Regions from separate parts of the Homo sapiens genome. Here all the other regions are reported to be linked to region 3. The links are microRNA targets in miRTarBase. Many come from high-throughput screens and were not tested one by one. Region 3 holds a microRNA gene; each other region holds the end of a gene's coding sequence. Distances are between the middles of the regions.

Region 1 (3,000 bases), not on the chromosome of region 3:
TCCAGGAGCCAGGCCGCACACAGGCCTCATGTCCGCTCTGTCCTTTCCAGGTGAGGCCGCAGCGTTTGATGACGAGTGGCGGCGGGAGACCTCCCGATTCCGGCAGCAGCGTCCCCTGGAGTTTCGGCGGCTTGAGTCCTCAGGGGCTGGGGGACGAAGGGCGGAGGGGCCTCCCCGCCTGGCCATCCAGGGACCTGAGGACTCCCCTTCCCGACAGTCCCGCCGCTATGACTGGTGAGGGCCCCGGGCCCTCAGCCTCTCTTGTAAGTATCAGGAGTAAGGAGGGTGGGGTGCACCTGCGGACGGTCCTCGGCTGCAAGGCAGGCTCAGTTCAGGCTCCCGCAGGAGCTGCCTTTGGTAGTACAAGTTGACATGGAAAGAGAACAATGTTCTCACTGACATAGGGGATTAAACCCCAACTCCTGGCTCTTAACGTAAGTTTTTTCTTCCTTTTGACTTGTGCTCCTCTCTCTTTCCCCCTCCAGGTACAGGCTGAGAGGCTGAGAAATCATCCCCTGAATAACTTTTTCCTCTCGATTCCCATCCCCAATTTAATATTAAATTAACAGGCAAGCCGGCCCCCACCTCTCCCTGGGGGTCTCAGGGAGAACCTTTCACGGCACCCTTTCCCTACCTTTTCCTTCTTTAATCTCCTGGTTTACCATTGATGACTTCGCCTCTGCATCTACTGACTTGATTTTTCATTCTGCCACTCCATCTTCAAACCCCCTCACCTTTCCCATCCTACTCCTGCCATGCATTGAAGGGTCAATGCATTTTGGGGTGAGCTCTGGGTTTAGGGGCCCCCTCCATCCCTCAGCTACCCTGGATCTTTGCCCACCTCTTCCTCAGAGCCCCCACTGAGGGGCCGTAGCCCTATCTAGGGCTGTGGAAGGAGCAGACTGGTTCCTAACTCTCTCCCTCCTCCTGCCCACACACATCAAAAGAATCTTCCCTACACCCTTCTCTGCCTTTATTTTTTGATTTGTGCAACTTGTAACTAGGTGTTTATGGAATAAAGGAGAATGGAAAAAAGACCAAGTGGGATTCTGGCTGTACTTTTGATCTTTTCCTGTTCAATTCAACCCTGCTGTCTCCTCTGAAGTTACCTTCTCACTTTTCCTCGTCTCCACCTGTAGTCTTCGTACCTCAGAGTTCAAGCCCACATCTCCTTGGTACGGACAGACCATCAGCACTGCCAGGTGCAGGCCGTGAGCACTTGGCTGGGCTAGGCTGGGGCGTGAGAACATGAGCACCTCTCTCGCTGGCTCTTCCCTCACATTCTGCTGTAACTTTGCTCTTCAGGGATGTGTTGGGCATCTCTCATGGGTGCCTGCGGAACTTGCTGCCCCTTGCCCCTTGGACAGAGTTTCTTTCCTGCACTCTGGGTGGAAACACTTCAGATAACCCTACACAGGCCTTCAGAGGGGAGGAACTCTGGTCTGCAGCGTTCCACAAACCCTCCACCCACAGTAGTTGAGAATTTGAGCCCAGGGAAGGAGCCTAGAGAAGAAAACTAACCTGGAACCTGAGCAGGACTGGAAGGGCATGAGGAGCTCAAATTTCTCAAGACGTTTGCTCTTGCTTTGCCCAGCCAAATGGGTCACTCTGTTCCTCTTGGGAACTTACTTAATGATGACAAATGTGTAGGAGAGTCTGATAATGGTTTCCTCTTTATGAAAGTCTTGAGTTCTTTTCAGTTGGTAGGGACACAAAGACACCTAAGGCTCTGGGTCCTCTCAGGGAAGGGAGGATCTTCCCCTGTGTCTCGTGGACGAGTAGATTCAAGAGGATAAGGAGGATTTGTCCAGTGACTCAACAAGCAGAGAGATGAAGTTGAGCTCAACAACCAGGCACTGGTGTCCTAGTCCAGTGCAGTTACTAAATCTCAGTAAGTAGGCTAGGCTGGTGAAGATGCATGACCGGGTCAAGGGAACCCAGTGGTGAAAGAATCCAGGAATCCCAGAAGTCAATCTAGTGTGGATTATTCACCACCACCTGGGCTCTGAACTGTGGATGATGGAACTCAGCAGCCATGGCCCTCATCTTTTTATCTTTTTTTTTTTTGAGATGGAGTATTGCTGTGTCACCCAAGCAGTGGCGTGATCTCAGCTCACTGCAACCTCCGCCTCCCCAGTTCAAGAGATTCTCCTGCCTCAGCCTCCTGAGTAGCTGGGACTACAGGCGCACACCACCACGCCCGGCTAATTTTTGTATTTTTAGTAGAGGCAGGGTTTCACCATGTTGGCCAGGCTGGTCTCGAACTCCTGGACTCAAGTGATCCACCTGCCTTGGCCTCCCAAAGTGCTGGGATTAAGACGTGAGCTGCTACGCCTGGCTTCACAGCCCTCATCTTTAAGTGTAATCTTGCCCTGTCCAGATAAGCACACGACTGTTTCCTCTGAGAAGGGAGTCGTTTTCTTCACTCTCCTGAGAAGGCAGCAAGGTAACCTGGAGTTGAAGGAGCCTCAGTCCTTAGCTCGGCCACTGACAGCCTTGTGGTCTTGGGCAGGTCACTCACCTCCCTGGACCTGAGTTATGTGGGGCCCTTCTAGCCACAAAATATCAGGCCCAGCCTCTCAACCCGGATTTTAGTTCCAGTGCCCACACGCGCATGTGTAGTCTTGAGTGTGACTGCGGCAGAGTAAGGCTGCCCTGACCTCAGTCCAGGTGAGTCAGTCCAGTGTTTCAGGGACTCCCCTGTTCAGGTCCCAGCCTTTAGACATGTGAACTGATTTGTACTCCTGCTCCCTGCTGTAGGGTTTGGACCACCCTTCAGCCCAGCACTTACTCCTGGGGCCTGTGACTAGTTCTCAGCAGGGATATGTTGTGGGAAGTGAGGTGTTAGCATCAGTAGAGTGAGATGCTCAAGAACCAGCCCCCTAGCACGTCCTGACCTGTCTGCCACTGGGGTAAGGGCCACGGGAGAGGAAGAGGAAAGGAACTTTCCCGAGGGACACAGATACTCTACTTCCGGTCAGCTCTCCATCTGGGCCCAGC
Region 2 (3,344 bases), 76 Mb from region 3:
CATCCACCCATCCATCCATCCACCCACCCACCCAACCATCCATCCACCCATCCATCCATCCATCCAGCCACCCATTCATCCATCAACCGATCCACCTAGGGACCCATCCACCCACCCACCCATCCACCCATACTCCCATCCATCCATCTACCCACCGACCCATCCATCGACCCACCCATCCACCTATCGATCCACCCACCGACCCACCCATTCACCAACCCATCCACCCAGCCATCCATCCACCCATCCATGCATCCACCTGTCTATGCATCCACCCACCCATCCATTCACCCACCCATCCCCTCACCCACTCATCCATACATCCATCCATCCATCCATCCACCCACCCACCCACCCATCCATCCACCCACCCCTCCCATCCATGCATGTCTCCTATCAGTTCTGTTCCTGGAGAACCCTGACTAATGTAGTGGTCACTCCCATCTGTTTCTGTTGGACTCTGTCCCCATCATAAGTGAGCCCTCCCCACAACAAGCACTCTTGATTTAACCTTTGCCAGTCCCAGTTAAATGTTTATAAAATTCAAGCCGTTCACTGGCTGTTCTTCCAGGTGAGGCAGTGTTGCCAAAGGCACCGTCTTGCCTCTTTGTAGCAAGCTAGATCTGCCCAGGGCACCTGGCCTCCATCTCGCACCCCACCTGGTTCCCCCATCAAGGCTTGGTGGCTCTGGGTGCATGGAGAGTTTTACTATGAAATAGCTCTAGCAGTGCCATTGACTCAGAAGGCACTTGGCAAACAGACTCACCATTTCTATTAAAAGAGACATGGAGTCTTAAAAAATATTAAAATGACTAAAATCAACAAATTAGCTGCTGTTGCTGAAGGCCTGCTGGGAGGCAGGTTCCAAGCCATGCGCTTTGCATATGTGACCTTGAGCCACCCAGCTCCCCCCATCCCCTACAGTGAAGACACTGAGGCACAGAGGAGCCGACAGCAGCAGGCAGGTGGGCAGACGCCGTAGTGCCCGTCCTGGTAATAGAACCTCCATTCCACTCACCCCTTCCCAACCCTATGCCCTCTGGGGGAGGCAGATGCCACCTTGGCCAAGGGCCATCTTGACCAGCGTAAGCCAGCCGTGGCCATGACATGGTCATCTTGTGAACACAGGCCATGGTTTCAGCCATGAGATGTGGGGCTGGTGGGGACGGGGTGGTGGGCAGATTCTGGAGGGTTTTCCTGTCCCTCAGTGGGAGGACAGAGGCTTCTCTCCCTGCCTCTTGATGCTCCCATGTCAGCTGTACTGCCCAGAACCACAACAGCAGTTGTAGGCACCCCAGGAAGACAAGCCTGAGGTGAAAAGCTGACTGTGATTAGGAGGCGCAGTGCTGTTCACCCGAGGTCCCAGCTACTCAGGAGGCTGATGCGAAAGGATTGCTGGAGCCCAGGAGGTTGAGGCCAGCCTGGGCAACATAGAGAGACACTCTCTCTTAAAAAAAGAAAAAAAAAAAGACAAGCTGATGCCTGGGGATCCCCAGCGATGCTGCCTTTGGATCCCTTGGCAGGCGAGACCAACCAACCCCCACTTCTTCAGCTGGGCCTTCTGCTGCTGGGACCAGAAGCACTGACGGCAGCGGCGAAGGCTGGATGGAGAACCAGGCCTGCCACCTCTGGGTCCAGCCTGACTGCACCCTTGGCTATGCCCGTCCTCTCTTGGAATGTGGCTTTCCTACGACCTGAAACCGTGGAAGGAGAAGGAGAGGGAAGGGCTGGGGGGAGGCAGAAGCCTGACCGTCAGATCTGCCAAGAACAGTCATCGTTTATTTCCACGAGTATTTCTTGGCATTAGGCAGATATTGAAGAACAGGCTGTGCAAGATTTATAAACGCGGGGACAGCTGGAGGGACGTAAGAGGGGCCGGATTTACCAACAGCGGTGGCACGCAGCACACCCGCCTTGCCTGGAGAGTGCAGGGGCCACGGCCTGAGGAATGGGGGCTCCCGCGGGCAGACGCAAAACTCAGAAAATGCCATTTATTTTATCATTTTAATACCGGAAATGCCAGACCAATCAACAGGGAGGACAGACCAGACACAAATGCCTGTGCTCACAACACGGATGGGAGGATCATCACGGCTCAGGGCACACATGCATTTCCTTAGAAACAGGCAGACAAAGAGAGCATAAATACCACACAACAGCCAGGCTCAGGGGGCTGCGGGCCACAGAGGGCTGCGCTTCAAAGGCAGTCAGAGGCATTAAATACGGGACCTACACAATACACTCCACTTCACCATACATAATTTATATATTAAAAGAAAGGGGACCACAGTATCTATACGTGCAAGCGGCTGTGGTGGAGAAAATGAACGGGGGGGCAGCCATGCACGGGAGGGGCTCCCTGTATACCCTCCCGACGCCTCGTCCCCACCCTTCCCACAGAGTCACTTGGGATCACAAAACGCATGGGCCGGCCGGGGCGCAGCCTCGGGAGGTCCTGCCTGGTCTCCTCGGCATGGACCTCTGAGCTCCCCGTGAGCCGGGAGGTGCCTGGAACCAAGAACACTTGAACCCTGCATGTCACCACATCCCTGGGAGTTGCCCTGGAAGGGACCGGGCCAGGCGTGAGGGGAGGAATGTCGCGTTGGTCAGGTGGAGGAGGGAGGCGCAGCCACCGGGCTGGGCAGGTGCAACGCATGCCCCAGGCCCGGGGCCCGGGAGAGCAGGAACGATTGCGGGGCATCCACTCTTGCAAGCAAAGCTTAAACGGCACGACAAGCCTGTGTTTCTCTGCAACTGTCCAGGGGCCGCTCGCTCAGAACTGACTGGCACTGCTGGGGTCGCACTGCAGCAGGCGGACGATGGAGGGGTCGCTCTTGGCACCTCTGATGAATTCTTCCAAGGACAGTTTGCCTGCAGGGGACCAGAGACAATGGGATTAGCCAGTGCTCACTGTTCTTTATGCTTCCAGAGAGGATGGGGACAGCTCTCAGGTCAGGTATGCTCCCTTTGTTGAAAGTCCTGAGCCTTCTTGAAGCTGGACGGTGTCTAGTCTCCATTCACTTTACAGGCATTTCTGAAAAAAAATCCTTTTTCCTTTCCCTGCTCCCTGCAATACATCAGGTACCTCAAAGGGCTTACCCAGCAAGCTCAGCAGGACGTGGCTGATGAGGGCCATTTAAATCCTTTTAGAAATCACCCCACACTTCGCTTATTAAGGAACGTGTACACTGTGCAGAAAAATGAAGCATTTGCCTCTAACCCATACAGAATCCAGGCTGAGAAGGCCATGCTGGTTGGGGGCCCCCGGAAGCACGGTCCGGATCCTCCCTGGCATCAGCGTAGACCCGCTGCTCAGGCTTGGGGTACCAAACTCATGCTCTGTA
Region 3 (3,297 bases):
AGGACCAATCCTGGCTGCTGGCGTCTGGGTCGCCGGTTGGGCGCGCGATAGGTTTTCAGTGCTGAAGGTCGACGGGCGAGAACTACAGTTCCCGTCAGGACGAGCGGAGCGGCGGCTTGTTGCATCCTTAATAAGGAGGTGCCTGGACTTCTAGCGAGAGTCCACATTTTAGGGGTCAAGGTTGTAATTATCTGGGAGGGAGTGCCTTTCTTTTCGCAGCTGAGAACACTTCTGAGTTATTCTTAATCCAAACAAAAGCGAAAGATTTTCATTTGTGGAGCTGAAACTCCTGGTCTTCAAGGAAAGACAGGAGTCATGACCTTGTGGCTCATTTCTGAGATTAGGGCAGGGATCTGTGTCTCCAGGCGCTGGGACTACTTTGACATTCAAGGAGCCTAAATACCCAGTTACTTCTAGTTTTGCGTAATTGCCAAAGTTACTTTCTAAAATTGAAAATTAAAAAGCCTGTTTCCACTGCTCATGATTTTCAGGAAGTTGATATTTTGGCAAAATGTAGATAGCAAACCAAGTACTGTGACTCAAGCAGTAATTGAACAGAATCCCTAGGAATAGTGAGTTAGAGATCATAAAAGTCAAGCTTTGTTTTTTCAAGTTCGCTTCTCTTCCTATTTGCTGCTAGGTAACAGAAGCAGCCCCTTCCATAGGAAAGTGGAACGAACCTGTGTTAGTTTTCTATTGCTGCGTAACAAATACCACAAATTTAGCAGCTTAAAACAACACCCATGAATGACCTTACGGGTTCTGTAGGATAGAAGTCTGGGCACGGATGATCTGTGTTCTCCGCTCCAGGTCACATAAGGCTGCAAAGTATTAGCCATGCTGTGGTTCTCATTTGGAGATCAGGGTCCTCTTCCAGGCTCATGCAGTTTGTTGGCAGAATTCAGTCCCTTGCAGTTACAGGACTGAAGTACTTCTTTTCTTGCTGCCTCTTGCCAGCCACTGCTCCCAGCTTCTACAGCCTGCCTACAGTTCCTTGCCTCAAGGCCTCTAGAGGCCATTCATAACATTGATGTTTGCTTTCGTGCAGGCTACCAGGAGCTTGCCTCTCTGACTTCCAAATTTCTTTTACTTTGGTCTTTCCTCTCTAGACCCAGATTTAAAAGGCTTATGTGATTAGACCAGGCCCACCTGGATGACCTCCTTTTCAGTTAATTCAGAGTCAACTTTTTGGGATCCCATTTGGGAATTAAGAAAACTAATTAAAACTTGGTAATAAAAAATGAACCCTTTTATAGCTCTGAATCAAGATGTCTAAGCTTCTTGAAATTGCTGTCTTGTAAAATTCTTTGGTTTATTCTCACCATCTCCTTAATTCTGTAGCATTTGACATTGCTGCTTTATGAGGCTCTTTGTACTTTTGGCTTCTCTCAAGTAATATTTTGGGTCCCATCTCTCTTGTTTTCCTTTACTGAGTCTGCTTCTGCTTTGTACCTCGAAATATACACCTTCTCATCTCTTCCTGTCTCTTTATAGACTCTCTAATTTGAGATTACATCAACTCTCAGAACTTTAATCCCCAAGCAGGTGACTCTCTAGCCTCGTCGTATTTGATTGTATCAACGTATCCAGAATATCTCACTTGTCAAGATCCTTTCCACTTTATTAAACCCCATCTTTCTTTTTTTTTTTTTGGATACGGAGTCTCACTTTGTCACCCAGGCTGGAGTGCAGTGGCACAGTCATGGCTCACTGCAGCCTTGACCTCCTGAGCGCAAGCAATCCTCTTACCTCAGCCTCCTGAGTAGCTGGGACCACAGGCATGTGCCACCATCCCTGGCTAATTTTTTAAAAAATTTTTGTAGAGACGGAGTCTCTCTGTGTTGGCCAGGCTGGTCTCGAACTCCTGGGCTCAAATGATCCTCCCACTTCTGCCTCCCAAAATGCTGGGAATATAGGCACGAGCCACCGTGCCCAGCCAACCCCATCTTCTTAAATGTCTTACTGCTTTTACTGTTCCCTCCTAGAGTCCATTCTTTACTCTAGGAGGGAATAGTAAAAGCAGTAAGACATTTAGTAAAAGGCTTTTTAAAAGGCAAACATGAGGTCATGCTCTTTGGAGACATCGCATCACATTCAAAATAAAATCTAAACTGCTTACCATGGGCCCTTGATCTGACTCTTCTCATATTTCATTTTTCTACTGCCTCACTCAGATTCTCCTGGTAATCTCCAGCATGTGCCTCACTGCCTTTTCATCAGGTGTTTCTTTTGCCCTGAACTCTTCTCACAGGTTTGCTTAACTTATTCCCTTCAGTTAATTTCTCAAATGTCACCTTCCCTTCAGAGAGGGCATCCTGATCCAAAATAGAATTCTGACTACTCTTGCCTTCCTTGTATCACTATATCTTTACCCCATCCTACTTTGTTATACTTTGTAGCTCCTAGCACTACCTGATGTTATAATGTGTATTTATTACACAGTTTCCACCTTTAAAAAGTAAGCTCCACAATGGAACTGTGTCCATATTTACTGCTGTATTTCCAGTATTAACAATAGTCCCTGGCTCCAAGTAGATGCTCAGTGAATGTTTATGACATATATAAATGAAAGAATGAATGTGTTCATGAATTTTTTTTTAATTTAAAAAGATTTTTTAGAGATGGGGTCTCATTATGTTTCCCAGGCTGGTCTTCAGCTTCTGGGCTCAAGTGATATGCCCACCTCGGCCTCCCAAAGTGGAATTTTTCTTAATCTGTGTAAGTGGATGTGACCTCCCTTTAAACATCCCATAGATTTTCAAACCTCTGATTATATATTCAGATTCTCCAGAGAAACAGAAACAATAAGGGTGTGTGTGTGTGTGTAGAGATAGGGTCTCATTCTGTTGCCCAGGCTGGAGTACAGCAGTGTGATCATAACTCATTGCAGTCTCAATCTCCTGGGCTTAAGCGATCCTCCCACCTCACCTCCTGAGTAGCTGGGACTACAGGCTTATGCCACCATGCCCAGCCAATGTTTTGGACTTTTAGTAGAGATGGGATCTCGCAATGTTGTTCCAGCTCATTTTGAACTTCTGGGCTCAAGCAATATCCCCACCTTCTCCTCCCCAAAGTGCTGGGATTACAGGCGTGAGCCATAGTGCCCAGCCTAGGAAGATTTATTATTTATTTATTAATTTTTTTTGAGATGGAGTCTTGCTCTGTCACCCAGGCTGGAGTGCAGTGGCGCCATTTCAGCACACTGCAAGCTCCGCCTCCCGGGTTCATGCCATTCTCCTGCCTCAGCCTCCCAAGTAGCTGGGACTACAGGCGCCTGCCACCACGCCTAATTTTTTT

What was found. Region 3 holds the annotated microRNA hsa-miR-4779 (UAGGAGGGAAUAGUAAAAGCAG, at 2,002-2,023, shown strand). A microRNA usually pairs through its seed, bases 2 to 8, with sites in the 3' UTR of a target mRNA and lowers its output. Matches are read on the target gene's strand: a 7mer-m8 pairs with bases 2 to 8, a 7mer-A1 pairs with bases 2 to 7 and ends in A, and an 8mer does both.
Region 1: miRTarBase lists MLF2 as a target of hsa-miR-4779. Seed matches in the 3' UTR shown: 7mer-m8 at 920-926.
Region 2: miRTarBase lists HPCAL1 as a target of hsa-miR-4779. Seed matches in the 3' UTR shown: 7mer-m8 at 2,615-2,621.

The regions. Positions count from the first base shown.
Region 1 is chr12:6,746,033-6,749,032 of GRCh38, reverse strand. It overlaps MLF2 (myeloid leukemia factor 2), which reads left to right. Exons shown (of 9, transcript NM_001382226.1): 8 at 51-263; 9 at 486-1,037. The coding sequence ends at 238. Among named protein-coding and RNA genes, the nearest start is that of MLF2, 5.6 kb to the left of the region's middle.
Region 2 is chr2:10,426,251-10,429,594 of GRCh38, reverse strand. It overlaps HPCAL1 (hippocalcin like 1), which reads right to left. Exons shown (of 5, transcript NM_002149.4): 5 at 1,991-2,871. The coding sequence ends at 2,774. Among named protein-coding and RNA genes, the nearest start is that of SNORA80B, 19 kb to the left of the region's middle.
Region 3 is chr2:86,191,763-86,195,059 of GRCh38, reverse strand. It overlaps MIR4779 (microRNA 4779), which reads left to right and starts at 1,952; the gene lies at 1,952-2,034. All of the region lies in intron 1 of IMMT (inner membrane mitochondrial protein), which reads left to right. RefSeq lists an enhancer at 48-97.